Linked DNA regions of Homo sapiens: all the other regions are linked to region 3. Evidence: fine-mapped expression QTL. A gene starts in region 3. Each other region holds a variant in brackets. All regions are shown on one strand. Distances are between the middles of the regions. Region 1 overlaps LOC124901982 (a long non-coding RNA gene). Region 2 has its middle 6.3 kb from the start of MIR3150BHG. Region 3 holds the start of PLEKHF2 (pleckstrin homology and FYVE domain containing 2). Region 4 holds the start of LINC01298 (long intergenic non-protein coding RNA 1298).

Region 1 (8,109 bases), 50 kb after region 3:
GTAGGCTGAGGCAGGAGGATCGTTTGAGCCCAGGAGTCTGAGACTGCAGTGAGACAAAATTGTGCCACTGCACTCCAGTCTGAGCAACAGAGTGAGACCTTGTCTCTTAAAAAGAATTAACTACATGTGCATGTACCAACTCTGAAATAGGAAGTGTGTAAGATGCTCTTATCTTTGCATTTAAACCTGGCATTGCACAATATAAAAATGAACAGAACAGTTCATTCTAATCATTTAAAAATTTACCTTTACTGAGAACAACAATAAATAGCAATTTTTTGATCATATTATTTGTTAAAAAATATTTGAGACAGGATCCTGCTATGTTGCCCAGGCTGGTCTTGAACTCCTGGGCTGAAGCGATCCTCCTGCCTTGGCCTCCCAAAGTGTTGGGATTACAGGCATTAGCCACCATGCTCAGCCTAAATAGCAAATAAAATCACTATGATAAATCAAGAGAGAGACTTTTGGAGAAAGAAAAAAGCTTTATATTTTAGTAACTTTAACTGCATTTTCCCCCTGCTTTTTGAACAAGGTTCCCCACCATTGGGCCCCACAAATTATGTAGCTTGTTCTGGATCTCATAGCTATGGCTGAATAATTCAATCCAGCCTGTCAAATTCTGGGGCCATGTTTCAAAAATAATTTCTTAAGTATAAGAAGCCTCAACTTACTAACAGATTGTGTTCCAGCTTGTTTTATAAGTCAGCAGCTTGGATTTTGGCACGTGTTTTCTCATAGGAACACTGTTTTGAATAGTGGTCAGGTTTCCAAGCTAGCCCACAAAAGCATACTGAAGCTATAACACAGCTGATTGTCTACAGTCTATTTGCTGTTATAATAATGTAGCTGAAGACCATTTGTGTGGTTTGCCAAATACTGCACTGTGGGGTTGCACTTAACAGTTGGGTGGGGTCAGGGGAATTCTGGTTGGTTCTGGCCAAAGAGCTGTGAATAGTGGCAGGTGCCACTCTGGGCCAGGGCCAGAGCATTTAGTGGGTGTTGTGAGACCCTCCAGGGTGCTCTGTTCTCCTGCCACAGTCACTGGTAATCTTCTGGGAATGACACAGAGCAGAATCCTGGTGGACTGTGATAGGCATGTTGCATGAGCAGGAAATCCGCCATTGTGTTTTAAGCCACTGAAATTTGGAGTTGTTACCAGTGCAAAAGATACACAGTCCAATTTTAGAAATAGTCCAATGTGAAAAGCTATAATGTCTTTGGATGAAACTGATAAAGGAATGGGAAGTATCTACCCTCTCCTCAGATGTTTAGACAGAAGGGATGCAGAGAGATGGGACAGTAGCTAGAGAGGGACAAAGGTCAAAGAGGAGTTTATTTGCTGATGCCTTTCTTATATTTTTAAGATAGGAGATGCGTAAGTGTGTTTATATGAGAGTCAAGAGAGACAGAGCTAGAGAAAGAGAGGTTAGGTACAATCAGTCTACATCTGCAGGAACCGAAGACTTAAGGGGGTTAACTAACTTGTGCAAATTCTTATGTCCTCACTTTACAGATGAAGGAACCAAGGCCTTAACAAGGTCAAGTCACTCATGCAAGTTTACATGGTTTATAACTGGTTGAACCATGTCTTAAACCCATATTGGTCTGACCCCGAAGCCCACATTCCTGACTGCTAGGCTGCCTCACCTCCTAGTTTTTGGGTGAGTTGAGTTAACACAGGAGCAGAGAGCTCGCGGCCCCACAGTTAGCCTGAGAGTCAGGGGCCTTGCTATTCCTGGTGAAAGTTCTGTCTACACAAGGCGCTGCTTCCTCATTAAAATTTATGCTGCCAATTCTAAGAATTTTATATAGAGTTTTCAGCCTTTTTCCTGTGAAAATTTTCCCTTAGGAAATCAGATGATATCGAACATCCTTCCACCATTGAAACTGGGTCATTCTAAGGAAATGTAGAATCTCAGGAAAGATTCTAAGGAAATAGAAACTCAGAATTTTAACACTAATGATATCCCTGCCATGTAATAAAAGAAAAACAAAGAGAGCAAGACTCGGTGACTTGCTTGGGGTTCAAGAGTGTATTTAAGAACATTTCCAAGAGGTCAAACAAGCAAGAGGGAAACGCCAGCGATGCTGGGAGGTACCCAAGTGTAGCCGCTGGGATAACATGGGTTATGGTTGCGGCCAGGAGGCCTCTGGAGTGTGACACCAAAATAAGGCTGCAGCCGGGAAGTTGTATCCTGGCTTCTCCCCCAAAGGATGGTGGTTTGCATCCCATTCCCGCCAACTGGCTGATGGCAGGTGATAGCCGAGTCACATGGAGGGGGCCCAGCCGTCCGGGGGTTACCACTTCCTCCTCGCCCACAACAAAGGCCCTCTGCCAAGTGGATGTGTCTATAAATGCCTCCACCTTCAGCTTTCGGGGAACCGTGGACTATGCCTTCTGAAATGACTCTTCAAAGCTGGAGGGAGCATTTCTTCCTCAGCACTCTGGCAGACAATGGGGAGGATAGGACAGTGACACTCACATGAAAGCACGAAGTTGGGATGAAGGAGATGAAGCAATTCAACAGTGGCAGATCTCGTGATAGTGGCAGCTTGGAAATAAAACAAGCCCCCGGTCACATGGTGTCTCGTACCGCCAGCTTCATGGTGTGACTGCTTTGCAAAGGGAAGTTGGCTCGGGCCACTGACAAAGAACATCTAACCCCAGCAAGGCATTGCAATGGGAGCCAGAGATGCAGCTTGATGGCTTGTTTGTGGCTTGGGGATCTACAGTGGCAGTATTTTGATGTGTCCTGTTTTCTGTCCAGGCAGGGAACAGGGAATAAGTGTGTTTTAATAAAGCTTGGCCTCTGTATACCTGTGACCTTGGCCTGGCTTGGCTTATCTGCTTATCCCATGTGCACCTCACTGAGTTATTTGTTTAGACAGCATCTTGAATGACTGTTTTGTTTTGTTTTGTTTTGTTTTTTTGACAGGGTCTTACTTTGTCATCCAGGCTGGAGTGCAGTGGCATGATCTCACCTCACCTCACTGCAGCCGTGACCTACCAGACTCAAGTGATCCTCCTGCCTCTGCCTACCAAGTAGCTGGGACTACAGGCACACACCACTGTGCCTGGTGAATTTTTGTCTTTTTTCAGAGATGTGGTTTTGCCATGTTGCCCAGGCTGGTCTCAAACTCCTGAAGTCAAGCAATCCACCTGCCTCAGCCTCCCAAATTGCTGAGATTACAGGTGTGAGCCACCTCGCCTGGCCTGAATGACTACATTTTAACTTAAATTTAGAATCTTAATTATTACCTAATATCTTCAAAAAGGTCACACAATGATGTAGCATTGAAATTTCAGAAGATGGCTTGCACACACCAGGCAGTGGAACTGATGGCAGTAAAGATGGCCAAATCTCTCAGGACAGATCCCGGAATTTCCAAAATTCAGAAAGTTAGAGTAATGGACAGTTTGTCAAAAACTTCC[T/G]GTTGACTTTCAGGAGAAGTCATGTAATTTCCGTAATGTGAAATCCCACTAAAGAAAGAAGAAACTTCAAGGGGAACTAGAAAATGCAGGCAAACTTAGGATTCTTGTGCAGGCCTTGAACTCATATTTTGAAGTATTTTAGAGGTCAAGGGCACAAGTCCTGGTTATGGAAAGCAGTGTGCCACCGAGGATGTTTTGCAAAGCTACTGATGATCCAGTATTATTCCCAAGGATCTCCAGATGCAGAATACAAAGCAGGCTAAGACTTAAATGTTGATTATGATACTAAAGAAGAAAGTGATGTATTAGTGTTTTGATAAATGTATGCTATTGACAGTTGAGTACAGAGGATTTTTAGAGCCATAAAACTACTCTGTATGATACAATAACGGTGGATGATACATGTCGTTATAAATTTGCCCAAACCCGTAGAAAGTACACCAACAAGAATGAACCCTAATGTAAACTAGGTAATTATGATGTGTCAATGTAGGTTCATCAATTGTAACAACTGTAACACTCTGGGGCAGAGCGGGGAGTGTTAATAATGGGAAGGCTGTGTGTGTTTGGGGCAGGGAATAGATGGGAAATCTCTGTATCTTCCTCTTAATTTTGCTGTGAATCTAAAATGCTTTAAAACATAAAGCCTTTAAAAATGCATAATTTAAACAAGGACAGGACTCAGGAGAGGTGAATGAGATACCTGGGGTGCAAAAGGAAGGAGATGCCCATTCTTGGGGTTGTGCCGGTACAAGGCTAAATGGTTGAGAAGTCCACCATGTGGTTTATAATCCACAGCATCTTAGAATTGAGGAAATACAGTGGGCACAGTTCCCCCAAGGGCTGGGGTTCTGAGCTCTGTATTGGGCCTTCCTGGCCTCACCATCTCCATGTGTTTTTTCAGCCTGAGCACCAGCTCCTCTGGGGAGGGGCTCCTGGAGAAGCTGGGTAGGGGCCCATCCTCTGCGCTCTCATCATGCCCTGTACGAGTCTTTCTGTGAGTCCTCATCTCAGTGGAATTGCTTTTAAAAATCTGTCTCTTGCCCAGACTGTGAAGTCCTTGGGAAGAAAAATTGTTGTGTTATACCTTTTGTAGTTGGCCCAACAGCAATGAATGGACAAGCTCTGATGTCCTGTAGAGATGGGAAAAAACATAGTCTTTTGCGGACTGAGCGATTAATTTTTCTCCTTTAATCATCAGTGCAGCCCTCTGGTGGGCTGATGAAATGTCTTCAGGAGCCAGAGAGCACTCCCAGTCCAAGCCTTACCCTTGTCTTCGGTTGAGGAATAACTTTATCATTTGGTTAAAGTGGAATATGCCCAAGAAAGAAAAAGTTTTGCTTTTTATGACTCATGTCAACATTTTAAAAAACATCTTAAGGAAGTTTAGTCAAAGTGCTTAGGGAACTTTGGAAAAAAGATGCCACTATCTATGTCCTAGTGCATTGCATGAAGTCCCAGGTGCATTGTGTAAGGTCTCAGGTGCATTGTGTGAGGACACAGCTACATCGTGCGAGGCTGCAGGTGTGTGGCATGAAGCTGCAGGTGCATCAGTGTGGCTGTAGGCTGTTTAAAATCCTTCTTGTTCCACACAACCTAAAATGCTCACTTTCTATAGAAGCAATACCTCCTAGTTTTGCTTAGATCCCTAGACAAATAGTCTGCTTTCATAGGAGCAAAGGCATGGCTTATACCTGACTCTAGTTTCGAAAATGCAATGTTTAGAGCTAACAGCCTTCTCTATCTTGCTAGTACTCCGTAGCCACAGAATTTCCTGTTCATTGTATCTGGGAATCATTTGGATCTGTTTGTACTGGCTTATTATGATTTAAGAAGACTTGAGTTTGTAGCATTTAAAAAAGGAATTATATTTTATGTAATATGTACTTTTATTTTGGGTTCAGCAGAGCGGGGAGATGGGCAGGAAGGGGGAAGTGCTGATAGCTAAAGAGATTTACAAGAGGATGAAGAAGGTCAATATCGTGCCTCATTTCCCCTTCCTAGTGATAACTGCTAATATATTTCTATGGAGCCTCTTTTAATGGTATGTATTTCAAACATTTTGTTATAAACATAACACTCGGATATTATAGAATTGAAGGAAAAACACTTTTAATGCCACCACTCAGATAACCAGTGTTGCTATTATGATGCCCTTTGTTTTTTTGCTATGCATATAAAGTCAAATACTAAATCTACATTACAGTGTAAGCATTTTCCTGAACAAAAAAACATGGCACACACTTTAATTGCACAAGACAGAAACAATAGCACACAGAGCACACACATAAGCCCTATATCTCAATCTCACTTATAGACCTTGATGAAAAATATCAAACAAAATATTGACAATAGAATCCAGCAATATGGTTTAAGAAATGTATCATGACCAGTTGAAATTCATTTCAGGAATGTAGAGATTAGAACATGTTTGGAAATCTATTAATATAATCAACCTTATATAAAAACCCTGTATGATTATCTTGATACTGAAAAGTCATATGAAAATTTCTGTGATTTAAAAAAATCTCGAACTAATAGTCAGCATTATGTTTAATTAAACATAGTCACATTAAAGTCTAAAAAGATGAGTGTCATCATTATTTTCTTGTTCTAAAAATCCTAGTCAACACAACGAGCAAGATAATTAAACAAGATGTCTAAACACTGACAAGAAAGAGGCCAAATTATCTTCACTTGAAGATAATATGATTGCTTACAAAGAGAATCCTAAAAAATTTTAGACATAATATAGTTCAATAGACTGTACAAAATAAATATATAAGTATATGAAAATATGTAGAACAAATATTTAAAAATCATATATTTAATATATATTTAAAATAATACATAAAAACTTAGAGTTTCTTATATATCAGCAAAACCACTTAAAAGTAAAATGAAAAATATATTCCATTCACATCAGCAGCAATAAAATAAAACACCTAGGAATACATGTAACCAAAGTCAAAAGCAAAACAAAGTCAAATCAAATCTTTATGAACCAGTTCTGAGAGAAGTAAGACTAGAATGAACTGAGAGACAAATCTTGTTACTGGATGGGAAGATGCAATGTCAGAAAGAGGCACATTCTCCAACAGATCTCTAAATCCTATGTAATCTCAAAAGGAATCCCTAAGGGATTCCAAGTGAATTCTAAAACTCAGCATGAGAATAGCCAGGACCATTATGGAAAAGGCAAGTAAAATGGAGGTACTCCTCCCAGTAAATATTATTATTATTATTATTTTTTGTTCTAAGCCTGCCATTGTAGTGAATGACTACCACATATTAACACAAAGCTATACTAAGTGTGTATGATACTGATACAGGAAAAGACAGGTCAATCGAGCAAGTTAGTTCAGAAAGATCCAAGTGAGTGAGTGTGTGAGTATGCATGTATATGTGTGGGTACATTTGCATATAAATATATATATCAGAATTTAGTATCTGATAGAGGGGGCATTTCAAATATTTGGAGTAATTGTCTTTTTTTGTTTGTTTGTTTTTGAAACAGGGTCTCTCTCCGTGCTGGAGTTCAGTGGTATAAGCTTGGCTCACTGTAGCCTCAACCTCCTGGGCTCAAGTGATCCTCCCACCTCTGCCTCCCAAGTAGCTGGGACTACAGGCGCACACCACCATGCCTGGCTGATTTTTGCCTTTTTTGTAGATGCAGGGTTTTGCCATGTTGCCCAGGCTGGTCTCAAACTCCTGAGCTCAAGCCATCTGCCTGCCTCGGCCTCCCAAAGTGCTGGGATTACAGGCGTGAGCCACGCGCCCAACCAGAGCAACTGTTTATTAATAGGAAAACCATAAAGCTGGATCCTTATCTCATATTTTTATACCAAAATAAATGGAAGATAATAAAAAATTCAAATATGAAAAATGAAACCATAAAATGCTAAAATATAGGTGATTATTTTTAGCCTTAAAGTGCGTAAGTCATGATACCAAAAAGCAACTATAAAATATTTTATAGATTCACATAAGTAACATTTTCTAAAAGTCCTTTTGCATATTAAGAGTAATGAACAGGCCGGGCGCGGTGGCTCACGCCTGTAATCCCAGCACTTTGGGAGGCCAAGGCGGGCAGATCACGAGGTCAGGAGATCGAGGCCATCCTGGCTAACATGGTGAAACCCCATCTCTACTAAAAATACAAAAAATTAGCTGGGTGTGGTGGCGGGCGCCTGTAGTCGCAGCTACTCAGGAGGCTGAGGCAGGAGAATGGTGTGAACCTGGGAGGCGGAGCTTGCAGTGAGCCGAGATGGTGCCACTGCACTCCAGCCTGGGTGACGGAGCAAGACTCTGTCTCAAAAAAAGAAAAAAAAAACACAAAAAAAGGGGAATGAACAAAGTTGAAGTACAAATGATAAACTAAAAAAATGTTAACCATACATGTGACATTGGGTTAATATCTCTATAATACAAAAGAAATTTACAAATTAATTTGACAAGGACAAGTTATTTAATTAAAAAGTGATCAAAAGATATAAAGAGGCAGTTCATAGAAGAAAAAACAAATGAGAAATAAGTATGTGAAAATATAGTCATTCTCACTCATAATGAAAGGAATACAGATTAAAACCATGTAGTCCACGATTTGCTGCCAGGTTGGTGGTGATGGTAGGTTCAGTTATCAGGTATGGTCAGTGTGGAGAGCAGTGGGCTCA
Region 2 (8,109 bases), 53 kb before region 3:
CAATATTTCTCTGATGCCCCCAAACAGACATTTATTATTTTGTCAGCCTAGATTAGCACTCCCTTTTTGGAGCTGGGATTTTATCCTCCCCAGGCCAACCATAAGCATCTCTCGGGGCATGGGAATGTTTCCCTAGAATTTTCTAGTTGGCTTGGTGAATAAGTGTCCTCTTTCCTCTCTGCAGGAAATTAAGGATGCAGACACTCAGGGCGTGTGTCTTGCACAGCCAGCCAGCCTGGGAAAATGAAGCCAACTGGGAGAGAGATTTGAAGGACTCTGGTTCTAGGCATGCGCACTTCTCCAGGTACTTGAGCTTGGAAACCTTCTTGCTTAACTAGCTCTAGGCCAATCTTGCTTCACTCGAACACGCACACACTTCTCCTTGCGCTATTTTGAATTACCAGAGGAGAATCTTTGACAAACACAGGTCGATGTTAGTGTGAGCCAGACTGGGCAACTACACAAAATCAAAATCAGGAAAGGAGAGCCACTTTGCTGGAATCTCCCAGAAGGCTGGTGGGGTGGACTCCGGGGCTTTGAAATCTCTAAAGAGTGGTGACTCACCTCTCCTAGAAATTGCCCTGGTTATATCATAAAAGGGCTCAATTTTTACATGAGGTCTCAATGGTCTTTTTACTTAATGTGACATCATTAGAAAAATCAACCTTTGACCAGAAAGAGGCAGTTCCCTCCTTCCTCACACAATTCACAATTTTCTGGAATTATTAATAAAAATTGCGTATCTCTAGGCAGAAGCTCTCCAATGCTAGATTTTTCACTAATATTCACATACAATTTACCTCAAGTTCCTCCTCTGCTCCTGACCTCTCAGGGCAGCTGTGGTACTCACAGGGTAAATTCCAAACACCTCACCCAGGCACTCAGGGCTTCAAGAATTGGGCCTGACCTTAGCCATCAACATCATTTCCCACTCCAGAATGAACACTTTGCCCTGGTCGTGCCAGTCTCTGTATTTCCTTTACATGAGTCCTGCTCACTCCTTTTCCACACCTTGGTGTAAGCTGCCCTGAACTGTCCCTCTTGCCTGTGTTCTTTCTCTTCGTCTTTTTCTTCCTTTTAAAAAATTGAGTGCTCACTGTGTGCCAGTTATGGCCCTGAATGCTGAGTATAAAATGACTCATAGGCCGGGCACGGTGGCTCATGCCTGTAGTCCCAGCACTTTGGGAGGCTGAGGCAGGTGGATCACCTGAGGTCGGGAGTTCGAGACCAGACTGACCAACATGGAGAAACCCCGTCTCTACTAAAAATACAAAATTAGCCATGTGTGATGGCCCATGCCTCTAATCCCAGCTACTTGGGAGGCTGAGGCAGGAGAATTGCTTGAACCCGGGAGGCAGGGTTTGTGGTGAGCCGAGATCGTGCCATTGCACTCCAGCCTGGGCAACAAGAGCGAAACTCCGTCTCAAAAAAAAAAAAAAAAAATTCATAGCACCTGGTTTTTGCCTTTGTTGAGGTCCTAACCCTCAGTACCTCACAGTGTGACCGTATGTGGAGACAGGGCCTTTAAAGAAGTGATTAAGGTGAAATCATATGAGTGGGCCCTAATCCACTATAACTGATGTCATAAGAAGAGGAGATGAAGCCAGAGACGTGCACACATGTGAAGACACCTGGCGAAGATGGCCATCTATAAGCCAAGGAGGGAGGCCTTCGAAAAAATCAACCCTGGGGATACCTTGATCTTGGACTTCTACCTTCCACAACTGTGAGGAATAAATTTCTGTTTAGACTACCCAGCCTGTGGCATGTTTTTATGGCAGCCTTAGTAAATGAATACAAGGGGCTTACAGTCTGGAGAGGGAGACAAATAAGAAAAGAAGCAAGAACAACACAGCCTTGTAAGCACAGTCATTCCCCCTTCTCCATGGGGAATATGTTCCGAGACTTCCAATGGATGCCTGAAACCTTGGATAGTTCCAAACCCTATATATACTATATTTTTTCTATCCGGTAACTGAGATGACTAAGTCACTAACTAAGTGACTAAGGGATAGGAACGTCTACAACGTGGAGATGCTGGACGAAAGGATGATTCATGTCCCAGGTAGGACAGAGCGAATGGCAGATTTCAGAACTCAGAACAGCATGCAATTTAAAACTTACAAAGTCTTTATGTCTGTGATTTTCCATTTAGTACTTTCAGATGCAGGTGACCATGGGTAACTGACACTGCAGAAAGCAAAACCTTGGACAAGAGGGCACTACTCTACCATGACAGGAGAAGCATAGAACTCTCAGTTGTGGGAGACGAGGAGTAGTGTTAGGACATTTCCCAGGGGGATGTTATTCTGGGTTGTAAAGGTCATGAGAAGTGCCTGTCCCTCCAAGGGTGCAAGGGTGACCAGAAGCAAGCTCTTAGGCATGGGTGGGCTTGCTGTGGATCTCATCATCCTGCTTCTACATGAGCCAAAGGCAAGCCAGTCTAGGTGCATGGCCAGCCCCCCGAGATGGAGCTCATGGTGAGGGACCAGCCAAGTCAATCACATCTGCCTTGGTAGATGGAGCCAGCAGCAGGAAAAGAAGCTGAGAGCCGCGGAAGGAAGGTAGTGAACAGCAGCCACGGGACCACAGATATGAGGCCACTCATAAAGCAGACCCAGGAGGCAGAGAAGAGGCTAAACAGTGAGCCTGGGACAAAGGAGCCCATGGAGAGAATCAAAGGTGGAGATGGAGGCCACAGGCATCATGGGGCCACTGGAGTGGAGAGAGTTTCAGAGGGTTCTGGCTGGGGTCGGTCCCCTGAGGCATGGCTCTGCAGCTGATATGCTTGCATGCATTGAGTGTGGAGAACTTAGTGTGGAGAACTTCTGTGGTTTTGGCAAATGCATAATGTCATGTATCCACCACCACAGAATCATGCAGAATAGTTTCACTGCCTTTAAAAAAATCCCAGGCTGGGCGCAGTGGCTCATGCTTGTGATCCCAGCACTTTGTGAGGCCAGGGCAGGAGGATCGCTTGAGCCCAGAAGTTCAAGATCAGCCTGGGCAACACAATGAGACCCTGTCTCTACAAAAAGAAAAAGAAAATTAGCCCGGCATGATCACACTCACCTGTAGTCCCAGCTACTCCGGAGGCTCAGTGGGGAGGATTGCTTGATCCCAGGAGTTTGAGGCTGCAGGGAGCTGTGATTGTGCCACTGCATTCCAGCCTGGGTGACACAGTGAGCCCCTTTCTCTGTTAAAAAAAAAAAAAATATATATATATATATATATCCCCTGTACTCCACCTATTCAAGCCTTCCCCTCTTCCCCAGAACCTCTGGCAATCACTGATCTGCTTACTGTTTCTCTAGTTTTGCATCATTTCGAATGTCATATAAATGGAATCATACAGTTTGCAGGCTTCTCAACCTGGTTTCTTTCACTTTGCAGTGTGCAGTTCAGATTTGTCCATGTTTTTGTGTGGCTTGATAGCCCATTCTTTTTTATTGATGAATAATGCACGCAGGCATCCATTGTATGGATGCACCACAGTTTGTCTACTCACCTATTGAAGGACATCTTTTTTTTTGTTTTTGTTTTTGAGAGGGAGTCTTGCTCTATCCACCAGGCTGGACTGCAGTGGTGTGATCTTGGCTCACTGCAACCTCCATCTCCTCTGTTTAAGAAATTCTGTCTCAGTCTCCCGAGCATCTGGAATTACAGGCATGTGCCACCATGGCCGGCTAATTTTTGTATTTTTAGTAGAGACGGGATTTCTCCATGTTGGTCAGGCTGGTCTCAAACTCCCAACCTCAAGTGATCCGCCCACCTCAGCCTCCCAAAGTGCTGGGAGCCACCGTGAACCACTGTACCTGGCCCTATTGAAGGACATCTTGATTGCTTCCAGTTTGGGGCAATAAATTCTTTTTAAAATAAAATATTTTGTAAAATTTGCAATACATAAAAAACATTAAGGATATCTTATTAGACTAAATCTACTTTGTAAATGCCCAAGAATAGCAGGTCTTTATTTTTAAGTACATCACTGAGATAAGTGAGGTTGCTTTGATCAGAGAGCTCCATGATTTTGGTTTTCTTTTAGTTTCAGTACCCATGACATTCCATTCAAAGGTTTGTGGAATCACTAAGTCTCTAAAGATGAAAGTTTGAAAACCATTGAACTAAAGAAGATTCAGTGAGAAAACTGGATGAGAGAAGGAGGAAATTTATTGACAACAATTAAACTATAGGACCAAACTCTTAATAGAGGAAAATAAAAACTGATTCTTGAAGGAAGAAGAAATAACTTCATTTTAATTTTTTTAGACTTTTTTTTTTTTTGAGACAGGGTCTTGCTTTGTCGCCTAGGCTGGAGTACAGTGCTGCAATCTCGGCCCATTGCAACCTCCGTCTCCCAGGCTCACTT[G/A]ATCCTCCCACCTCAGCTTTCCAAGTAGGTACCCACCACCACGCCTGGCTAAATTTTGTATTTTTTGTAGTGATTTTTTGTAGTGTATTTTTGTAGTGTATTTTTTGTAGTGATTTTTGGTAGTGTATTTTTGTAGTGTATTTTTTGTAGTGATTTTTTGTAGTGTATTTTTGTAGTGTATTTTTTGTAGTGATTTTTTGTAGTGTATTTTTGTAGCGTATTTTTTGTAGTGATTTTTTGTAGTGTATTTTTGTAGCGTATTTTTTGTAGTGATTTTTTGTAGTGTATTTTTTGTAGTGATTTTTTTGTAGTGTATTTTTGTAGTGTATTTTTTGTAGTGATTTTTTGTAGTGTATTTTTGTAGCGTATTTTTTGTAGTGATTTTTTGTAGTGTATTTTTGTAGTGTATTTTTTGTAGTGATTTTTTGTAGTGTATTTTTTGTAGTGATTTTTTGTAGTGTATTTTTGTAGTGTATTTTTTGTAGTGATTTTTTGGTAGTGTATTTTTGTAGTGTATTTTTTGTAGTGATTTTTGGTAGTGTATTTTTGTAGTGTATTTTTTGTAGTGATTTTTGGTAGTGTATTTTTGTAGTGATTTTTGTAGTGTATTTTTGTAGTGTATTTTTGTAGTGATTTTTGTAGTGTATTTTTGTAGTGTATTTTTGTAGTGATTTTTGGTAGTGATTTTTGGTAGTGTATTTTTGTAGTGTATTTTGGTAGTGTATTTTTGTAGTGATTTTTTCTAGTGTATTTTGGTAGTGTATTTTTGTAGTGATTTTCGGTAGTGTATTTTGGTAGTGTATTTTTGTAGTGTATTTTTGTAGTGATTTTTGGTAGTGTATTTTTGTAGTGTATTTTTGTAGTGTATTTTTTGTAGTGATGGGGTTTCATCATGTTGCCCGCTGGTCTCAAACTCCTGGGCTTAAGCAATCCTCCCACTTTGGCCTCCCAAAGTGCTGAGATTACAGGCATGAGCCACTGTGCCCGGCCAAATGACTTATTTTCTTTTCTTGGAGCAAGCTGTTTGAGCACAGCAATCGGAGCCTTAGCTTTGGGCCAAGCTGTGTTATCCCAGGATTTGATGCTGGACCCTTGGGCCAATATGTCTCAGTTCACCCACTGTGCTCTCACCCCATGTTAGCCCACCTAGCCTCGTACTCAAGGACAGAGTGCTGATCTTCCAGCTTCTTCATGTATCCTTTCTACAAATACTGAGCCTGCATGTTGATGGCTGCACTGTCTTAGGCTCTGGGAACAAAAGAGTGAACAAAAGTCAGCACAGGTTCCGCCCTTTGGGAGTTTACATGGAGTCCTGAGTCCTGCATCTTTTTTTTTTTTTTTTTTTTTTTTTTTTTTTTTTTTTTTGAGGTGGAGTCTTTCTCTGTTGCCCAGGCTGGAGTGCAGTGGTGCGATCTCAGCTCACTATAACCTCTGCCTCCCAAGTTCAAGCAATTCTCCTGCCTCAGCCTCTCAGCCTCTGGAGCCGTTGGGACTACAGTGCACTACCATGCCCAACTAATTTTTGTAGTCTTAGCAGAGATGGGGTTTCGCTATGTTGGCCAGGCTGGTCCCTAAGTCCTGACCTCAGGTGATCTGCCCACCTCTGCCTCCCGAAGTACTGGGATTACAGGCCTGAGCCACCGCGCCTGGCTAGTCTTGCATTCCTCATTCTAAAGATCTAGGTCCCAGCCCACCTTCTTTGTCAGCTTACTCAGCTATCCTGATACGCTGATTGGTGGCCTTAATGATGAAGGATGATGGTAGAGGAAAACATTTAATGACCCACGGACTCCGATAATACTCAAGAGCACAAATACAAAGAAATTAATCAAGGGAAGAGAGAAATGAAAATACTACATTTCAGTGAGAGTCTAGTAAAAAGAAAAGCATAATGTTTTTCCCATCCAAGATCACAGAACCCCTGAATTTTATCCATGCATCTTAGTTTAAGAACTCCTGTTGGGCCGGGCGTGGTGGCTCACGCCTGTAATCCCAGCACTTTGGGAGGCCGAGGCGAGCGGATCATGAGGTCAGGAGATCAAGACCATCCTGGCTAACACGGTGAAACCCCATCTGTACTAAAAAATCCAAAAATAAAATTAGCCGGGCGTGGTGGCGGGCACCTGTAATCCCAGCTATGGGAGGCTGAAGCGGGAGAATGGCGTGAACTCGGGAGGCGGAGCTTGCAGTGAGCCGAGATCGCGCCACTGCACTCCAGCCTGGGTGACAGAGTGAGACTCCGTCTCAAAAAAAAACAACAAAAAAAAAAAAACTCCTGTTGTTAAAATCTGAAAAAGAGAGAAACAAAGCTGAAGCTAGTAGAAATAACTGAAGTAAGAGGAATAAGAGGCATATGGTGGAAACCAGAAAAGAATTAGGCTGGGTGCGGTGGCTTATGCCTGTAATCCCAGCACTTTGGGAGGCCGAGGCAGGAGGATCACTTGAGCCCAGGAGTTTGAGTCCAGCCTGGGCAACATGACGAGACCCTGTCTCATTAAAAAAATAAAAAAGAAAAACTAATAGTGCAGCAATGGTAGGAAATGGGGTGGGTGCTGTGCTGCTGCTGTTGGGATGGGAGGGTGTGAGGAGTAAATAGAGAGGCCCTGGTGCCCAGCTGTATTCTCATACTGTCAGAATCATCTCCTTCTGTTCAGAATCACTCGAAGGTACTTAATACACTGTATGATTTCCAAACAGATACCTAGAATTTATGAAAATAGTTTGGATTTCCTGTTTTATGAAATAATCTCTCTCCTGTGGTAGGGGCGGGGGTGGGAGGAGCTTTCATATGTTCATGTGTTCCTTAGCATTCTTTTTGTTTGTTTGTTTGTTTGTTTTGTTTTGTTTTGTTTTGTTTTTTGAGACGGAGTCTCGCTCTGTCGCCCAGGCTGGAGTGCAGTGGCGGGATCTCGGCTCACTGCAAGCTCCGCCTCCCGGGTTCACGCCATTCTCCTGCCTCAGCCTCCCAAGTAGCTGGGACTACAGGCGCCCGCCACTACGCCCGGCTAATTTTTTGTATTTTTTAGTAGAGACGGGGTTTCACCGTTTTAGCCGGGATGGTTTCGATCTCCTGACCTCGTGATCCCCCGCCTCGGCCTCCCAAAGTGCTGGGATTACAGACGTGAGTTGTTTGTTTGTTTTTTTGTAGAGACAGAGTCTGTATGTATTGCCCAGGCTGGTCTCGAGCTCCTGGCCTCTAGCAGTCCTCCCGTCTCAGCCTCCCAAAGTGCTGGGATTACAGGTGTGAGCCACTGCACTTGACCCATATTCCTTAGAATTCTTTCAGGGTTTTATCTGTCTTTGTTTTTACATTTAACTTTTCAATCTAAATGGAATTAATTTTGGTAAATTGTGTAAGGTGATGCTAAAATTTTTTTGATCCCTAACAGCCAGCCTATTTTCCCAGCTTCATGTAGTAGATAATTCTTCCTTTCTCCACTAAACGGGCTCTGTCTTTATCATCCATTACATTCTTATTTGTACCTGATCAGCTTTGAATGCTATTCTGTAGCATTTATCAGTCTAGCTATCATTATAAGTTATCCATCTAGTTATTTTTGTATCAGGACCGCATCTGTTTAATTCTTGAGCTCTTTAAATGTGTTTAATACTTCCTAAGACTTTTTCACATTATTCTTGAATGTTAATTTTAGCACTTTTCACATGCCTACTCATCTAGAACAGCAGTTCTTAAGCTTTACTGTGCTATGGTTCCCTTTATTAAAACCTTTGAACCCTTT
Region 3 (8,096 bases):
CTGAGCTCAAACAGTCTCCCTGCCTTGGCCTCCCAAAGTGGTAGGATTATAGGTGTGAGCCAGCATGCCTGCCTTTTTGTGTTTTTTGTACCTAATATTTTCCCAGAAGTTCAGGAAAATAGCCCCTTAGGATTTGAGCTGCATGTTCAAATTTATACTGGTATCTTAGTCCATTTGGGCTGCTATAACAAAATGTCTTAGACTGGGTAATTTATAAACAATAGAAATGTATTGCTCACAGTTCTGGAGGCTGGGAAATCCAAGATCAATGAACCAGAACAAATGGTGTCTGCTGAAGGCCTGTTCCTTACAGATGGCACATTTCTCACTGTGTTCTCATGTGGTGGAAGGGCACACAGGCTCTCTCAGGTCTCTTCTCTAAGGGCACTAATCCCATTCACAAGAGCTCTATCTTTATGAACTAATCACATCCCAAAGGCCCACCTCTTAAAACCAACCCATTGGTGATTATATTTCAGCACATGAATTTTAGAGGGACACAAACATTCAGAACATAGCAACTGGAGAATGACGGGTTCTGCTTTTCTTCTGCCTTTCAATCCTTATACATGTGTCTCCACTGGCAGAATTTAACCTGGAAACATTTAGAGTAAGTTCTCTGGAAAATAGAGTGCTAGGCTGTCTCCCTATAGGTACAGAAGAGAATGTAGAAGGGGGTGGCAATCATGCCGAGTTGACAACTGACAAGCTGGCACATGCTCCTGTTGGGGCCTATGGGTAGAAAGGAGAGGACAATGAGGTCCCTGGCCTCATGCAGGTTTCAGACTCCAGGGAGACCTGTAAGTTCTGTGAGGGAAACAAGCAAAGGGCTGTGACTGAGAGTAACTGAGGACATAGTGTCCAGGAAAGGCCTCTCAGAGGACTGAAACATGACAAGGAGCCGCAGCTATGTGAAGGGCAGAGACTGTGGAGTTGTGACTATCCAGGTAGAGAGGTGTCCAGGGCAGTGAGCGCCACAGCAGCTCTTTTGAGCTTGATTTATTTTAGGAAATGATGGAAGGTCAATGTGAATGGCAGTTGGTGGAGTGTAGCATCATTTTAAGTTGGAGGGGATGGCAGGGGCTGGATTGTGCTGGGTCTTGTAGAACCAGGTGATGAGCTGGTATTTCGTACTAAGTGAAAGAGAAACGCTCTTATTCTATGTGGCATGTCTGGGCAAATTAGATTTCCATCTTGTTGGAAAATTGTTGTAAGATAATTTTGTTAGAATGAGTCATTTCACTAAAATCTGCCAGAAAATATTCATAATAAATATTAAATTTCCAGTGCCTCCAATGTGAATGCACTCTCCCATAGGGTTGTTCTACCACAACTGTACAATTCTATATGGCAGCCTCTGTGGGGAGCCATGGAAATGTTTCTTCAGGGAGTGACACAATCCTGTGTGGCTCCTGTGTGGAGGGGCCAGGAGGAGAGGAGAACAGATGAGATAAAGTGTTTTGAAGGTAGATCCTACAATATTTTGGAGATAAAGAGATTGGATGGAGGACATGGGAAAAAGGATGACAGGATGATGGCTCATCAGGTTTGTGGATGGCAGTGCCGTTTTACTGAGATGGGCAAAACTGGGAGAAGACCAGCCTTTAAAAGTGGAGGGGACAAAGAAATCAAGGAGTAATTAAAATCCAGGTATTTGCCATCCTATCATTTCTTGAATGTTCTATTTTCAATTAAAACTTAACCAAACTATTCACTTTTACAAGATACACGTTAGATTCAAGAACAATAACGTGATCTTTTTTGCCTTTCAGGATTAAAGAATCGGGTTAGTCAGTCTTGGTGGTGCATGCCTGTAATCCCAGTTACTGAAGAGGCTGAGAGGGAGGATCCCTTGAGCCCAGGAGTTTGAATCCAGCATGGGCAGCAAAGCAAGACCCAATCTCTTATTTTCAAATGTAAAAAATTAAAAAAACAAATTGGGGAAATATAAACTCAAGTTTTACTAATCTTTTCAAGTTCCTCTATGTTTTAACAATGTGTCATACACTTTACACATTATCTTATTTCCTCCATTCAGCAGTTTATGAGGAAGTTCCTTTTTTTTTCTTTCTTTTTTTTTTTTTTTTTAAGAGAAAGGGTCTCCTTCCATCATTCAGGCTGGAGTGCAGTGGCTGGATCATTGTTCACTGCACTGCACTGCAGCCTTGACCTCCTGGGCTCAAGGAATCCTTCCACATCAGCCTCCTGAGGAGATGGGACTCCAAGTGCCCAGCTAATTTAAAAATTGTTTTGTAGAGACACAGTCTCACTATGTTCCCCAGGCTGGTCTTGAACTCCTGGCTTCAAGCAATCCTCCTGTCTCGACCTCCCAAAGTGCTGGGATTATAGGCCGGGTGTGGTGGTTTACACCTGTAATCCCAACACCTTGGGAGGCTGAAGCAGGTGGATCACTTGAGGTCAGGAGTTTGAGACCAGCCTGGCTAACATGGTGAAAACTCGTCTCTACTAAAAAGAAAATACAAAACATATCCAGGCATGATGGCACATGCCTGTAATCCCAGCTACTTGGGAGGCTGAGGCAGAAGAATCACTTGAACCTGGGAGGTGGAGGTTGCAGTGAGCCAAGATCACGCCACTATATTCCAGTCTGGGCCACAGAGTGAGACTCTTGTCTCAAAAAAAAAAAAAAAAAATTGGGCGGGTGGGAGGATGGGGCTGGGCGTGAGCCACGTGTCTGGCCAGTAATTCCTATTTTTATCTTCATTTTACGGTTGAGATGTGAGGCTCAAAGAGCTGTCTTATCACTTGACTTGAACAGGGTACCACAATTACAGGTTCGGGTAGGAGTGAATCTTACTTCCTTTCAGTGACTTTTGAGTTCCCTGCTTTGTTCCAGATTGGTCAGTGCTATCCAATAGAACTTCTGCAATGATGGAAATGTTTTATATGTGCACTGTCCAATAGTCATGTGGCTATTAAGCACTTGAAATGTGGTCAGTGTGACTGAGAAACTAAATTTTTAATTTAAATAAATTTACATTTAATTAAGACATGTGGTTAGTGGCTACTGTATTTGTTAGCACAGATCTAAATCAACGGTCTCCAAACTGGGGTGCACGCAGCCCAGGGAGGGCATAGACTATGAAGAGTACAGAAAGAAAACATACATATATATATTTAAAATCATTATTTCTGATTTTTTTGTGTGTGTATGTTGTTTTTTAATGTACCTAACATACTAGGTATATTATAATAGGTGTATGTGTGTATATAAATACACACTATATATATCATACATATAATTCTGTGTGTATGTGTGACTGGGTCTTGCTATGCTGCCCAGGCTGGATTCAAACTCCTGGCCTCAAGTGATCCTCCAGCCTCAGCCTCCTGAGTAGCTGGGTATATTACATATGTAACAACTTTTATTTCACACTTACGTAGCACTATATAAATGTGTATATTATGTATGTAATAATTTTATTTCACACTTGTAAAGCACTGTGTGCCAGGTATATGCTTTACATATATTAATTCATTTCATCTGCATAATGACTCTGTGATATACTTTTATTATCTCCATTTTACAAGTGAAAAAACCAAAGTTATCTTTGGATGTGCCAAGGTTGTTAGAGACAAAGCCAATGTTTGATTACAGTCATTCTGGCTTCTATCTATGCACTTTACTTAAGCTAAATAAGTACATGGGAAGTGAGGAGGGCAAACATTTTTACTAATGTGAGTGACCAAAAATATTTGATAACTAATGCTCTAGGCTTGACCTTAGACAACCAGTCAGACATAGCAATTCCTACTTTCAAAATTTAAAAGGATTTTAGGCATTATTTAGTCCTGCCTTTTCCCCACTGATAGATATTGCTGTGCACGTAGAGGTGAATGAGGTAGAGTGATGGTACGGACAAGCGTCCTGGTGACATCTGTACTCATCTAGAGACAACTCTAACACACGAAAGATTGTGTGTGTGTGATCATACAATTTTCCCCATTTAAAAAAAGTTCATCTTTGCCAATTTTGTTCTAATTATTAATTTAAAAAAAGACTTGTTTGTTTCAGAGACAAACTCTATTGAAATAGGGGAGGATAGGAGGCAACAAGCCTGGAGGAGGAAGATCCCAGGTGGAAGAGCAGGGCGGAACCCAAGTCTGCTCTCATCCCTAGGTGCTCATCCACGTGCAGCTTGGCTGGTAGTGACTCTAATTCAACAGCAATCAAACACAGGTTAAAACAACTTACTGAAGTAATAGATGAATAAGAAATATAAAATTTACCAAAACCCAATTTCCTCCTACACACCACACACACTTTGTTTAAAATAAGTATGCTGTTCTCCCTACTTCGCCCCCATCCCTAGTCTACCCTAAGCAACTTCGTTACCTCTCTACGAACCCATCAGAGCGCTTAGCTATCAGATCAATTAGGGCACATTTAACCTTATATACTATGCAATAATTACAGTTTCTAGGTATGTGAAGTAGGCTGATGGGGTTTTGTGTCGTCAAAGTTTTGGGAAGACCAGAATTCTAAAGTATGCATTTAAAAGAAAGGGCTGGGTGGAGCACGTAGGGTATGTGTGTGTCGCCGCAGTTCCCTTGGTTTCAAGAGGAGGGATTTTAGGTAAAGCAAAGGGAAAGTGTGACGGAAAGGATTGCTGTGCTAAATGGGAGCAGCAAATGCCAGTACCGATGCCTTTGGGCATTTAGATCCAAAGCCTGCCTTTCTCGTTCTTCAGTTCCCCGGGGAGGCCTGTTGTGGGTGGGGAGGTGTCTTCCTTCTATTATTCCAGTCTCCCTAAGAACTTCGTAGACAGTTGAGCAATACTTTCTAAGGGCTGGTCGGAGTCAGGAAAGTCAGGTAAGGCGCCTCACGTGCACCTCAACGCGTCGCGGGAGCGCGTCCCGACCTCACACATGGACAAGCTCCGCCCGCGGCCGGCCTGAGTGGGTGTGGCCTCCGCCAAAGGCCCCGCCCCTAGAGCGCGTCGCGAGGGGCGCGAGGGGCGGGGCGAGGGAACTGGCAAGAAAGGGCGGGGAGCGAGGGGTGTGGGTGTGCTCGTGCCCGCGCGCTCGCGCCCGGAGTGTGGACGGGGGCGCGCCCGTGCGCGCGCAGGGGAGAGGCCAGCCCAGGCAGCCGTTGTCGGGTTCGACTGGAGGGGCGGGGGAGTCACCTGCGAGCGGCTGCGCTGGCGGCCAGCCCGCCCACCGCGTCTGGATCGCGCCGGCTGCGCGGGGCTGCGGACAGCACACACCCTGGAAGGCCCCGGCGGGGAACGGGCAGAGTCCGCGCCCTGCGTCCGCGACCAGGAGGATCGGACCTTCGCCTTCGCTGTCGCCGCCGCCGCCGCCCGCGGCCGTCGGGGTAGGTGAAGCCCGGGTGGGTGGTCCGCCGGCTCCTGACGGGCCGGGAGGGGAGACGCGAAACTTTCCGGGCGCTTCCTCCCGCGGTCCCGGAGCCGTCGCAGCGCCGGGAGGTGTCGTCGTCGCGGGCGGTGGCGGCCGACGCCATGTTGGGGTCTGTGAGAAACGGGGCGCTCCCGGCCGCTCCCCTCGCGCCGGGGCCGGCCCGCGGGCCAGTTGCCGCCGCCGTCCCGCCAGCCCGGGAGCGAGCCGCGCCCGCCCGTAGGACGCCGCCGCCGCCGCGGGGGGACGGGGGCCGCCGGGTAGGGTCCGGTCCACGGGTCTGCGGGGCGGGGGCCGGCGGACGCGGGAAGGAGCCCCGAGGCCGGGCGAGAAGTTGTGGGGCCTGAGGACGGGGGTCCTGGACACGGCCGGGGGCGTCTCAGGGTCGCGACAAATTTCTGGCCGAAAAGTTTGCAGGGTCTGCGTGTCGGGGACCTTATGACCTGAACTACATATTTGTATGTCACTTGGGAGACGAAAATGGCCCCGCAGAACTTGCTCTGATAGAAGCGATGGTTTATTTATTTGGAGCCTTTTCAAGTTTTATGATCCTTTGACGAATTTATTTTTCTTTTTAAAAATGTGATTGAAGGCCGAGAGCGCGCTGCCGGTGTTGCTTGAATAGCCTTGTGTGCTCTCCGTACATTCCAGCAATAACTTGAGTGTGCGGTGGAAGTGGGTATGAAGGTTACAGACACCTAAGCCCTCCTCGGTAATTCATAGACTCACAAAACGCGTTGTTGATAAATGCCTTCTTTGTCGTGTTGTGTAGTACGTTGCTGAAGAGACTCATTAAAGAAAGATTTAGACAGAAACTTTGAGAGTCTTAAAGGCATGTGTTCTCTTAAGAATAAGAAGTGATCTTGACAGTTTGAAGTTTTTTTCCCCTCCCTTTAGTTTCTTAAGGGTGAATGCCTACCGCGTTTTGAGCATTTACTTTTTTTAAATACTCTGGCAGCTCGTGGGGTCTTCACGTTAATTCAGTATTAACGAAGGCTTCATTATAATCTCTTTGGGTCCCGACCACACGGGGAATGAATGGTATTAAGCTATTTATTTGGAAAGCACACGTAATCGGCCTCTAAATAAAACTAGTATAGTGACTAAGCTTCAGAAGAAAATATTCAGCCTCAGTAAATGAATCTAAATGATTTTTAAATAAAGACATCTTGCTTTAAAATTCTGTTAAATGAACTGAAAAGGCTCTTAAACACAAATACAGTAAGCCCTAAAACCCCAAATTCTTGGAGAATTTTACTTTTTAGATCTAAAAATACAGCTTCTGCTCATATTTGATTGTCAATTTCTTTTTCCTTTTTTCTCTTTTTCCTTCCTTCCTTTTCCTTTTCCTAGACAGGGTCTCTGTCTGTCGCCCAGGCTGGAGTGCAGTGGTGTCATCTCCGCTCACTGCAGCCTCAAACTCCCGGGGCCCAGGTGATCCACCTCGGCCTCCTGAGTAGTTAGGACTACAGGAGCGCATCACCACACCTGGCTAATTTTTGTTTGAATTTTGTGGAGAGAAGGTTTTGCCATGTTGCTCAGGCTGTATTGCCAATTTCTGTTGTTCTTAAAAATTCTTTTAGTTTTGCTTCATTGTCAAGTAAATGGCATTATAACATTTTTTATTTAGAAATGAAATTAACTAATTTCACAAATGTAGCAGCCAAACTGGTATTTAACTGAGATCTTATGACTCTGAAGCCTTTTCATTTTTCCTGTAGCATAACTTTGTAGGATACATAACTCAGTCTTCTGGAGCAATCTGTCCATCTCGTTTGCTCTTATCACTGCTCTGACTTGAATTTAGTTCTTCAGTATAAATACTTATTTCCCAGCGAGCTGATTTACAGGTGATCCTTGTGATGAAATTTTTTCCTTAAAAATACTTAAGCCTATACTCTTTGAAGCCTTTTCTGCTCTGTTCTCTCATTCCACTCCCTTGCCCTCTCCAGAAATCAATTAATTTCTCCCATGGTATTACTGTAAATATCGCATAGATTCTGTCATGACATCTCCTTGACAGCAGGCAACACATCGGGTCTGATTTGCCTCTTCATTCCCTGCATGCCAAGAACATAGCAGATGCTCAGGAAAGGTTTGAATGGATGAGTACACGTATGTTTGTTCCTTGTAAATATGCTTCATGAATTTCTTTTGAAATTGTAAATTCCATGAGCATCATAGTTAAATCTTCTTTGTAGTCTTTTTCCCAATACATGCCATCAACTCCATTAAATCCACAGATTGGTTTTTATTATATATACACACACACACACACACACACACACACACACACACACACATGTTTTGTTGTTGTTTTGTTGAGAATTTAACTTAGTACCTGAGTGAATTTTCGCCTGGGGGTACAGAACTTGAATATTTATGAAATTTCTAAGTAGATAATGGATTAAAGTATAATTACTGATGTATGAGAGAGAAGCCATGGATCATCAAAAGGATTATAATCATAATTTTAAGTGTGATTGAATGTATTTGAACTTGATGGAAATATTGTTAATGCTTGAAAAATTTAAAGGTCATATTTATACATTTAAGCTCTTGGAACAAATCTCATTATAGCTCTATCAATTATTGTTTTGCCGGAATTGTCTTAGAATTTTTAGAATGCCCTGCTTAATAGAAAGTATATGAAAAATTTTTTTGTTGTTGTTTATCTTTGATGAACCAGCTTTGTACATGAGCTGCCTGCTTAATAT
Region 4 (8,109 bases), 80 kb after region 3:
GGTGTGGCCTGGACCTTGGACCTTGGACCTTGGTTTTTATGTGATTCTCACCTGGGGATGGGAATGGTATGTGACCTCTTCCCAAGGCCCTCCATGGCACACTGGAGCTGAGAACTCCTGCTTGACACGCTGAGTAAGCAGGCAGGGGACCACGACGGCATTTTTCTTCAACCTCATGGAAGAAACAGAGCTCAGGGAAGAGGGAGGGGGTCTTGTCAGGAAGAGAAAGGAAAGTGGGGAGTGGCGTCCTTAGCCAGGACCCAAGGTTGAGGATACCAGTCAGCACCCAGCGATCAGAACATTCCACCACATTCCTCAGGAAGAGAAGCCGCTGTTCTCTTTTTGTTTGTTTGTGGGGGCAAAGGGGATGGCACTTTGAAAGTCAGACATGGTGAAGGCAGCCACAGCTTTGGGGGTGCCAGGTGGCTCTCTGTCTCTCTTCTCTCCTCTGTTTCTCTCTTTCTTCTTGCCCCTCTCTTCCCCTTCCCTTCTTTCTCTCTTCTCCCTCCATCTTTCCTTTTCTCACTGTGTGTCTCCTTGACATCGGGTCTCTATTTCTGTCTACCACTCACATCTGTGTCTCTGCTTTTCTCTCTCTCTCTCTCTTGCTGTCTCTCATACAGAGCCTGGCTTTATTCCTATTACCTCAGCTGAAGGGCCAGGACACCTCAGGAAGCACCTGTGCTCCGGCCCTGCCCAAGCACTTTTTCCATGTTCTCCTTTACACTTCCTCATGCATCCCTTCTTTTAACACGTGCTCACAATGTCATCCGTGCCTTTCAAGTCCCCTCACATATTTTCATCCGTTTTTATCAGCAAATATACAGGCATCTTCCTGGTGCCCCCCTGTCCCATCCTGTTGGCCCAGACCCAGGCTGACAGAAGTTTCAGCTCCTTGGGGCCTGCTGGGGATGGGCGATAGGTAGGTGGTGCCCGCAGAGATCGGGCTCCTCACCCTCAATTCCTGAGAAACCACTGAAACAGGAGAGGGGCATTACAGCACCCTCGGCTCTCAGCCTCCTGGGGCTGCTCCCTCCTGAGGCCAGGACCCAGGATGAGAGCACCCAGGTAAAGGCTGCAGAGCTCCCCAATAGCATACGGTTTAGAGGGAGAGCCTGGGGCCTGATCTCTGACCGGGACCTCTGGCGAATCATGTAATCTTTTTGAGCCTCGGGTTCTTTCTTTAAAACCTGGAAAATTGGTATTTTGTTTGCTCTATTGCACAAAGCGTTACCCAAAATGGGTATTTTGAGTAAAAAATACCCATTTTGTACTCAAAATACCCATTTTGGGAACAAAGCGTGCCTTAATGTATAAATTCAATCCTGCAACAACCTCACTACTAGGCAATATTATCATCTCTGTGAGGAAATGGAGGTTTAGAGAGGTGAAGTCACTCATCCAAGTTTGCTCAGCTGATAAGCGGCAGAGCTGGGTTTCAAACCCGACAGTCTGGCCCCAGGCCCTACACCCTTATGGTTGAGTGTTTTCCTGATGGTCTGTGAAATGCTCTCTTCTTCCACTTTTCTGGGATGGCCTGGGAGAACACAGTTGGTGCCCCTCTCCGGGTACCTCTGAGAAACTGTATTTCCAGGTCTGGCTCTATGGACAAGTGCCCACAGCATGGTTGTCCAGTCTGCAGAAGTGATAGTCCAGGTGCTGAGAGCACGTGGCCACCTCCACCTGGGTCTTCTGAGGGACACAGGGTCACTGAGTGGAGGGAAGGCTCTGATCCAGGGCTGCAGTAACCATCTGTGTTTTCCCCTAAGTCTCCTCAGGCTTTGTTGCCACAATACATTTATTTTTGGAGAATTAGCACCCCCAGTTCAGCACACTGGACCTCTTATTTGCCAGCTGCTTTCTCTCTTGTTTCTGTTTAACTATGGTGTGTATTGACTTTGCTGCTGCTATCTTTGTTTCACCTCTGAAAAGAATATTTGAGTGGCAAGTACTGTTTATTCTCTTATTTCTTCAACAAATATGACTTCCATGCACAGGACACTGTGCTGATTACTCTGGGGGATATGAAAAATGAAACTGGTGTGGCCTTTGCCCTCAGGAATCTTATAGTTCACTAGGGACACACTAACATGCACGGAGGTCACTGTGATACCATGTGGAGTGTGGTGAGAGCATTAGCACCAAACACGCACGTCGGGACTTCAGACAGAGCTCTTAGGGAAGCTTCCCAGAGGAAATGATGTCTAAATAACTAAGTTAAAGTGCAGAGACCCCAAAAACACAGTGATTTATATAAGATCAATCTTAAAATATAATTGTATTTCTCTCTCCTGTGACGGTGCGGATGTAGGTGGCAGTTGAGGCTGCTGGGATAGCTCAGCTCCACAAGGTCATTCGGGGACTCAGTTCTGCTCTATCTTGTTACTTTGCTCCGGTGTTCCACAGGGTGTTGGCCTCATCTCTACGGCTAAAACTTGGTCATTGCCACATTAGTGTTCCAGCTTATGGGCTGGGCGGAGAGGATGGAGGAATATACAACAGGTGCTTTAGGGCCCAGACCCAGAAGTGGCTCACATATCCTGTTGGCCAGAACTTGGTCATTTAGCCACATCTAATTACAAAGGAGATGGGGAAATGTAGTCAATAGCCAGGTGGCCAAGTGCCCAGCCAAAAATTTAATGTGGACGAAACAGATAACAGGGATTATTATCTCCATGACTCTATCACAATGAGTTGGACCTTGGCATATAAATAGAGCCTTGCTAAGTAAAAATTAGAATGAGAGGGCATTCAGGTGCCTTCCAGAAAATGTCAGAGGTAAGGAAAAGTGCAAGATGTATTTAGAGAAAGTGAATATCCAGCATAACTGAAGTGTAGGGTTTCTGTAAAGGAGGTTGTGACCTACATACAGGTGGAGATAGGGCAGGCCTCATCTCTTTAACAGGCTGCTCAGCCTTCCAAATAGAATGTAACCATGCCACCTGTACACCTGCTATCCCAAACACTTGATTCTTCTTTAACCAACCACACAGGATGTATGTTCTCTGAGCCCTACTCAGGAAATTTAACCTTGAGCTGATAGTGATCTAGATCCTATCAAAATCTTGGCTTCCTAAGGGTATGCTATTTGACTACTTTTTTTAAGCAATGATTCTTGTATGTATTGATGCTGATCCCAGAAAGTTCTATGAAGGACTACATTAGCCCAGTCTCCTAGCAGAAGCCCTTCACCATGTTGAGTTTCATGTTAAGCTCTTGGAAGAGATGGCCACACGAAGAACACTTTGGTATGTTCCAACAAAACATTATTGAGGATGTTGCTCACATTTTGTTCATGGTATAACATGGTATTTTTAAATAAAAATCAACCACAGGCTCTATATCTTGCGACATCCTGTTGCTTTGTCCTTGGCATTCAAGACTAAACAAACATTTATCAAGGCACTGGCTATTGACAGATACTGGGCCAGGTGCTTGGTGGGAATATAGAGAGAAGAGACACAGTCCCTAACTTCCAAGAGCTCACAGTCTGGGGCAGGGGATGCGAATATGTGGCTTGTGAGGCAGACAGATAAGTAATAGGCATTTATGACATAATTTGGTAAATGTTGTGTGAAGCACAGAAAAAGATGCTATAATAGCCTGGAGAGAGAAGGCGAGGAAGGCCTTCTGAAGGAGCTAAGTCTTGGAGGTTGAATAAGGGTCAATAACATTAATCATGAGGAATGGATAAAACAATGTTCTAGGCAAAGGCAACAGCTTAGCAAAGTCATGCAGAAATGAGAGAGGGTGGGGCTCAGTGTGGCTGTGGTTTAGGGGGAGGAGGGGGGATTCAGCTGGAGGGATAGGCTGGGCTAGTCACAGGGGCCTTGCAGCCCTGCTGAGGAATTTGGGCTTTTGCCCACAGGCTCTATACCATCCTGGCAGATGATCAGATCCATATCTTAGAAATGTCAGTCTTGTCAACATAAGTTAGGGACTGGACTAAGAAGGGAAGCTGTTGCAATATGTCAGGTGAGAAATGATGTGGCCTTAAACATGTGAAGACAAGGTGGACATAAGGAGGTGGAAAGAGGTTGGAGGAATATTAAGGAAGAAGAATCAATAGCACTTGGTGACTGATTTGGGGGTAAAGGAGAAGGAGAAGGTGATGGGACAGTGAGGTGTTTGGACTGGCAGTGTTACTCCTTTAGAACCAGCTGACAGGGGAAGGAGCAGGTGAGGGGTGGGGGATGAGGTGCTTGACTGTGGAGGTGGGCCAGGCAGTCAGATATGCAGGAGGAAGATAAAGATTTTGGAGTTTCCAGTGTGCAGGTGCAGGTTAAAGATAAGGAGTGTGTCCAAAGCCAGTGAATACTGAATGACACACCTGCGGTGTTGTCAGATGCTTTTTATTCCACATAAGAAGTTGATGCAATGGCTACTGTGGGCCTGGAGCTTTCACACTCACTTATTTAGCCTGCTCCATAAAGCTGTGAGGAAGAATGCATTTACTTATTGATGCTTGGCTGGAGAAAGGATTTAAGCCTGTAGGTATTATCACTAGGCTGATTTTACAGTGAGGTTCAGAGAAGTGAAATGAGTGGTAGCAGGCCAGGTTGCACAGAAGATGGTGGAGGGGGATTGAAGGGCAGGCCTTTGCAGCCTGGTCTATACCACAACTGCCTTTTGTGATGTGGGTGCCCTTTGAGCAGGAGAGGCATAGCTGCTGGTAGCACATGCTGCTCACAGGGGACTACATGAGTCGGTGGGGCAAGGGCACCTGACCATGGCCTTGGCTCCCGTGCATGCACTGGGTTCTGACTCTGGCACAACCCTGGGCATACTCAGCTCGGTGAGCTGGTTTGGTGCTCATTTTATCATCCTTTTGGTGCAGGAGGATTTCTGTCCCTCTTGGCCCTCCACATCCCCTGCTGTCCTCATGGCTGGAGAGGAGGCCTGCAATGAGGCAAAACTGACACCAAGGCAGGCCCATCCATGGTGAAAGCAGA[G/A]GTGTACTGGCATTAGGTGTTGAAAGATTTGCATGCGGAAGGGGTTGGGGAGAGGAAGTACTTAACCACTGATGTTGATTTAGTGCAAGGCTGGCACAGTGGGTTGAATTGTGTCCCCCCCCGCCCCCACCAAATATGTCCCAGTACCTGTGAATATGAGCTACTTCTGCAGATGTAGTTAAGAATCTCGAGATGAAATCATCTAGGATTTAGGGTGGTTCTAAATCCAGGGTCTCTCTGTTGCCCAGGCTGTGGCACCATCTCAGCTCACCACAGCCTCCACCTCCTGAGCTCAAGAGATCCTCCCGCCTTAGCCTCCCGAGCAGCTGGGACTACAGGTGTGCACCACCAGGCCTGGCTAATTTTTGTATTTTGTGTAGAGTTGGGGTTTCACCATGTTGCCCAGGCTGGTCTCAAACTCCTGGGCTCAAGGGATCTGCCCACCTCAGCCTCCCAAAGTGCTGGGATTACAGACATGAGCCACCGCACCCAGCCTGAATCTACTGCCTTTATAAGAGAAAGAAGAGGGAACTGTGACACATGGGGAAGATGGCCATGGGAAAATGGGGACAGAGATTGGGGTGATACAGCCACGAATCTAGGAATGCCTAGGGTTCCCAGGAGCTGGAAAAGGCAAGGAATCTTCTCCCCTAGAGGCTTTGGAGGGAGTGTGGCCCTGCTAACACCTTGATTTCGGCTCAGTGATGCTAATTTTGGACTTCTGGCTTCCAGAACCATGACAGAATAAATTTCTGTGGTTGGAAACCACCAAGTTTGTGGTAATTTGTTGCCGCAGCCCCAGGGAATGAACACAGCTGGCAAACATGTGGCAGGCAAGTGCCTCCTACACCTAAGGAGGATGCCAATAATCACCCTCAGTATCCCTTCTGGGGAACCCGGCACCACCCTTGATCCTGCCCACAGAGCCCTCTGGCAGCTGCTGCCACATGACTGGAGCTGTCACACTCCATGCTGTGATTTAGTGCTCACCAGGTCCCTAACACTGGACTTGGCTCAGGCAGCTCAGAAAAGGGTCTGGCAGGGCCACTGTTCTCAAGGGGCCTGGAGCCTTGGCCTGTGTGGGTGTGGGGCATGGCCATATCACCTCTGGAGCATGAACAGTGCCTGCCAGTCTCTGGACATCTGCTCAGGCCACCCAGCCTCAGCTCAGCAGCTGGGCTTTCTCCAGCTTTTGGGCTGTCCAGCTGCAGCTCAGCAGACAGCAGCATAGGACTTGTAACTTATTCACCTCGAGGTGAATAAGTTACCCACAGAGATTTAGGCAGAGAAAACTACCGTTTGAGCCAATAGGTTAAAGAAAACGCACCAGTGCCTGGATTTTGCCTTTAAATCCAGGGACAGCCTGGATTTAAAGGTCTATGGAATTCCTGAGGTGAATGCTTCCTGAAGCCATGGAGAAGGATGGCACAGAGCAAGTGTGACATGGGAGGTGTCACATGCTTCTCTTAAAGGAGAAGCAAAACTATCCGGATATGGGGAAAAGGACAAAATATCATACAGGATGCAGCCTCCCCTGCCCTCAAAGAGGGGTGCTTATCCTGATGGCGGGGGGCGGTTTCCTCACTCAGGACTTCCTCTTTCTTTTCTTCGGCGCAGTCCCCTCCAATTGCTTGCCTCAGAATCACTGGCTATAATTATACAAAAGTGGATTCCCGAACTGCCTCCCAGACAGACTGAGTTTGAATCTCTGTGGCTAGGACCTAGATATCTGCATTTTTAATAAGATCCCAGATGATGCTGATGTATCATCAGCTAAGAATTACTGGCCTAAAGGTGTTTCCAACACAGCCCACCATGCCAGTACAAAGCAGCTGTGCACACTTTTGGAAGGATCCCCATTTTCTCCTGGGGAACTGGCCTTGGGATATGACCAATAGCGCCCCATAGCTCTCAGAACAACCCTGTCCCCATGGGCCCTCGCGGGCAGGCTGAGCACAGCAATGTGGCACTCAGCGGCTGGCCTGGGATTTGTTGGAAATAGGTTTGCTGCTTCTCAGCCAAGTGGCCTGAAGCAAACGATTTAACCTGTCTTGATTTCCTCATCTGGAAAATGGGGACACCAATAGAACCAACAAAAAGTGTTGAGAGGACTGAATGCCAGCATGTGCATGAAATGCCTCATCGGTGCATAGTACAGCATTTGATAACTCAGAGCTTTTTCAAAAAGGTATGATGATGAAAACCTTATTCAGAAGAAAGAAAACTTCACAGAAATCATTATTACAAAGCCCAGCTGAAGCTCTCCTGCACATCAGACCCCTTCTGGGAAGTGTTTGGAAAACATCAGTCTAGTGGCCCCTCCCCAGTCTTATGCCTTCCCCATCCTTCCCTCCCATCTGTGAAAACAGAGGAATCTCTAGTGGGGGGTGTCTGAGTTTTTTGAAAAAGAGAAAGCTTTCCTCTGGTAAGAATCACCTGGGGGCACTTGAAGACACGGCCTGGCCTCTCTGGGAAATTCTGCTTTTGGTGTTGGAGATGGGTTCTTGGAATTTACATTTTTAATCAGGTACTTCTTAACTTTTCAGCAGTTAAGGAAGCACTGGTTTAAAGTGGGTTTAACCTTCTGTGGTTGAGAGAGGTTTTGGCGCCACCCTGACCAGCCAAGGCTGTCTCCCCTGTTATCCACAATTCCTTGTGGCAACACCACCTCTATCTAGGAGGGAAGTGTCACTTATGGTGTGGAGCCTGCTAGTTGTGTTTGGAGATTGCAAAGCACAGTCTTTGTCGGTCTGTGTATGTGTTCATGTAAGTGTGCACACACCCTCACACTTCTGAAAACTACCTCGATGATGGCAGGAAAAAAGAACTGGCTAAAATTGTAGAAGTTGAGAGCCAACACAGTGCTCAGAGGAACTTTAACGCTAAATAAAAACAAAGGATGAGGAGGGGTCCCATGGACAGACGGGGGGAACGGGAGACTCAGTTGAGAGTGGAGGCCCCTGACTGAAAGCCAGCAGTCCCCACGTGGAGCTCTCACCTTCTGGATGGCTCAGCCTGGCAGGCTGCTTCTGTTTGAGAATCCTGGGAGGCTCGCCCTTCCACATGTACTTTAAGCCTAGAGAAGTGTTGGGAGCTGTCCTGCCACTCGTGGGGCAAGGGGAGGACTGCTTAGCCAACCCTGGTGAGATGTGAGCTA

The links. PIP is the estimated chance that this variant, and not a neighbour inherited with it, causes the effect.
Region 1: its variant is fine-mapped to the expression of PLEKHF2 in whole blood (TOPMed, PIP above 0.99).
Region 2: its variant is fine-mapped to the expression of PLEKHF2 in monocytes after Pam3CSK4 (Quach 2016, PIP 0.95).
Region 4: its variant is fine-mapped to the expression of PLEKHF2 in whole blood (INTERVAL, PIP above 0.99).

What each region holds. Positions count from the first base shown.
Region 1 is chr8:95,179,073-95,187,181 of GRCh38, forward strand. It overlaps LOC124901982 (a long non-coding RNA gene), which reads left to right. Exons shown (of 2, transcript XR_007061015.1): 2 at 2,940-8,109. Among named protein-coding and RNA genes, the nearest start is that of LINC01298, 33 kb to the right of the region's middle. RefSeq lists an enhancer at 2,261-2,360. The variant T/G (reference allele first, on the strand shown) is at 3,437.
Region 2 is chr8:95,075,449-95,083,557 of GRCh38, forward strand. It overlaps a transcript of NDUFAF6 not described here. Among named protein-coding and RNA genes, the nearest start is that of MIR3150BHG, 6.3 kb to the left of the region's middle. The variant G/A (reference allele first, on the strand shown) is at 4,370.
Region 3 is chr8:95,128,693-95,136,788 of GRCh38, forward strand. It overlaps PLEKHF2 (pleckstrin homology and FYVE domain containing 2), which reads left to right and starts at 5,093. Exons shown (of 2, transcript NM_024613.4): 1 at 5,093-5,338. RefSeq lists silencers at 4,835-5,474, 5,495-5,654.
Region 4 is chr8:95,208,368-95,216,476 of GRCh38, forward strand. It overlaps LINC01298 (long intergenic non-protein coding RNA 1298), which reads right to left and starts at 8,007. Exons shown (of 3, transcript NR_046232.1): 1 at 7,951-8,007; 2 at 52-211. RefSeq lists enhancers at 4,498-4,557, 4,798-4,847. The variant G/A (reference allele first, on the strand shown) is at 4,953.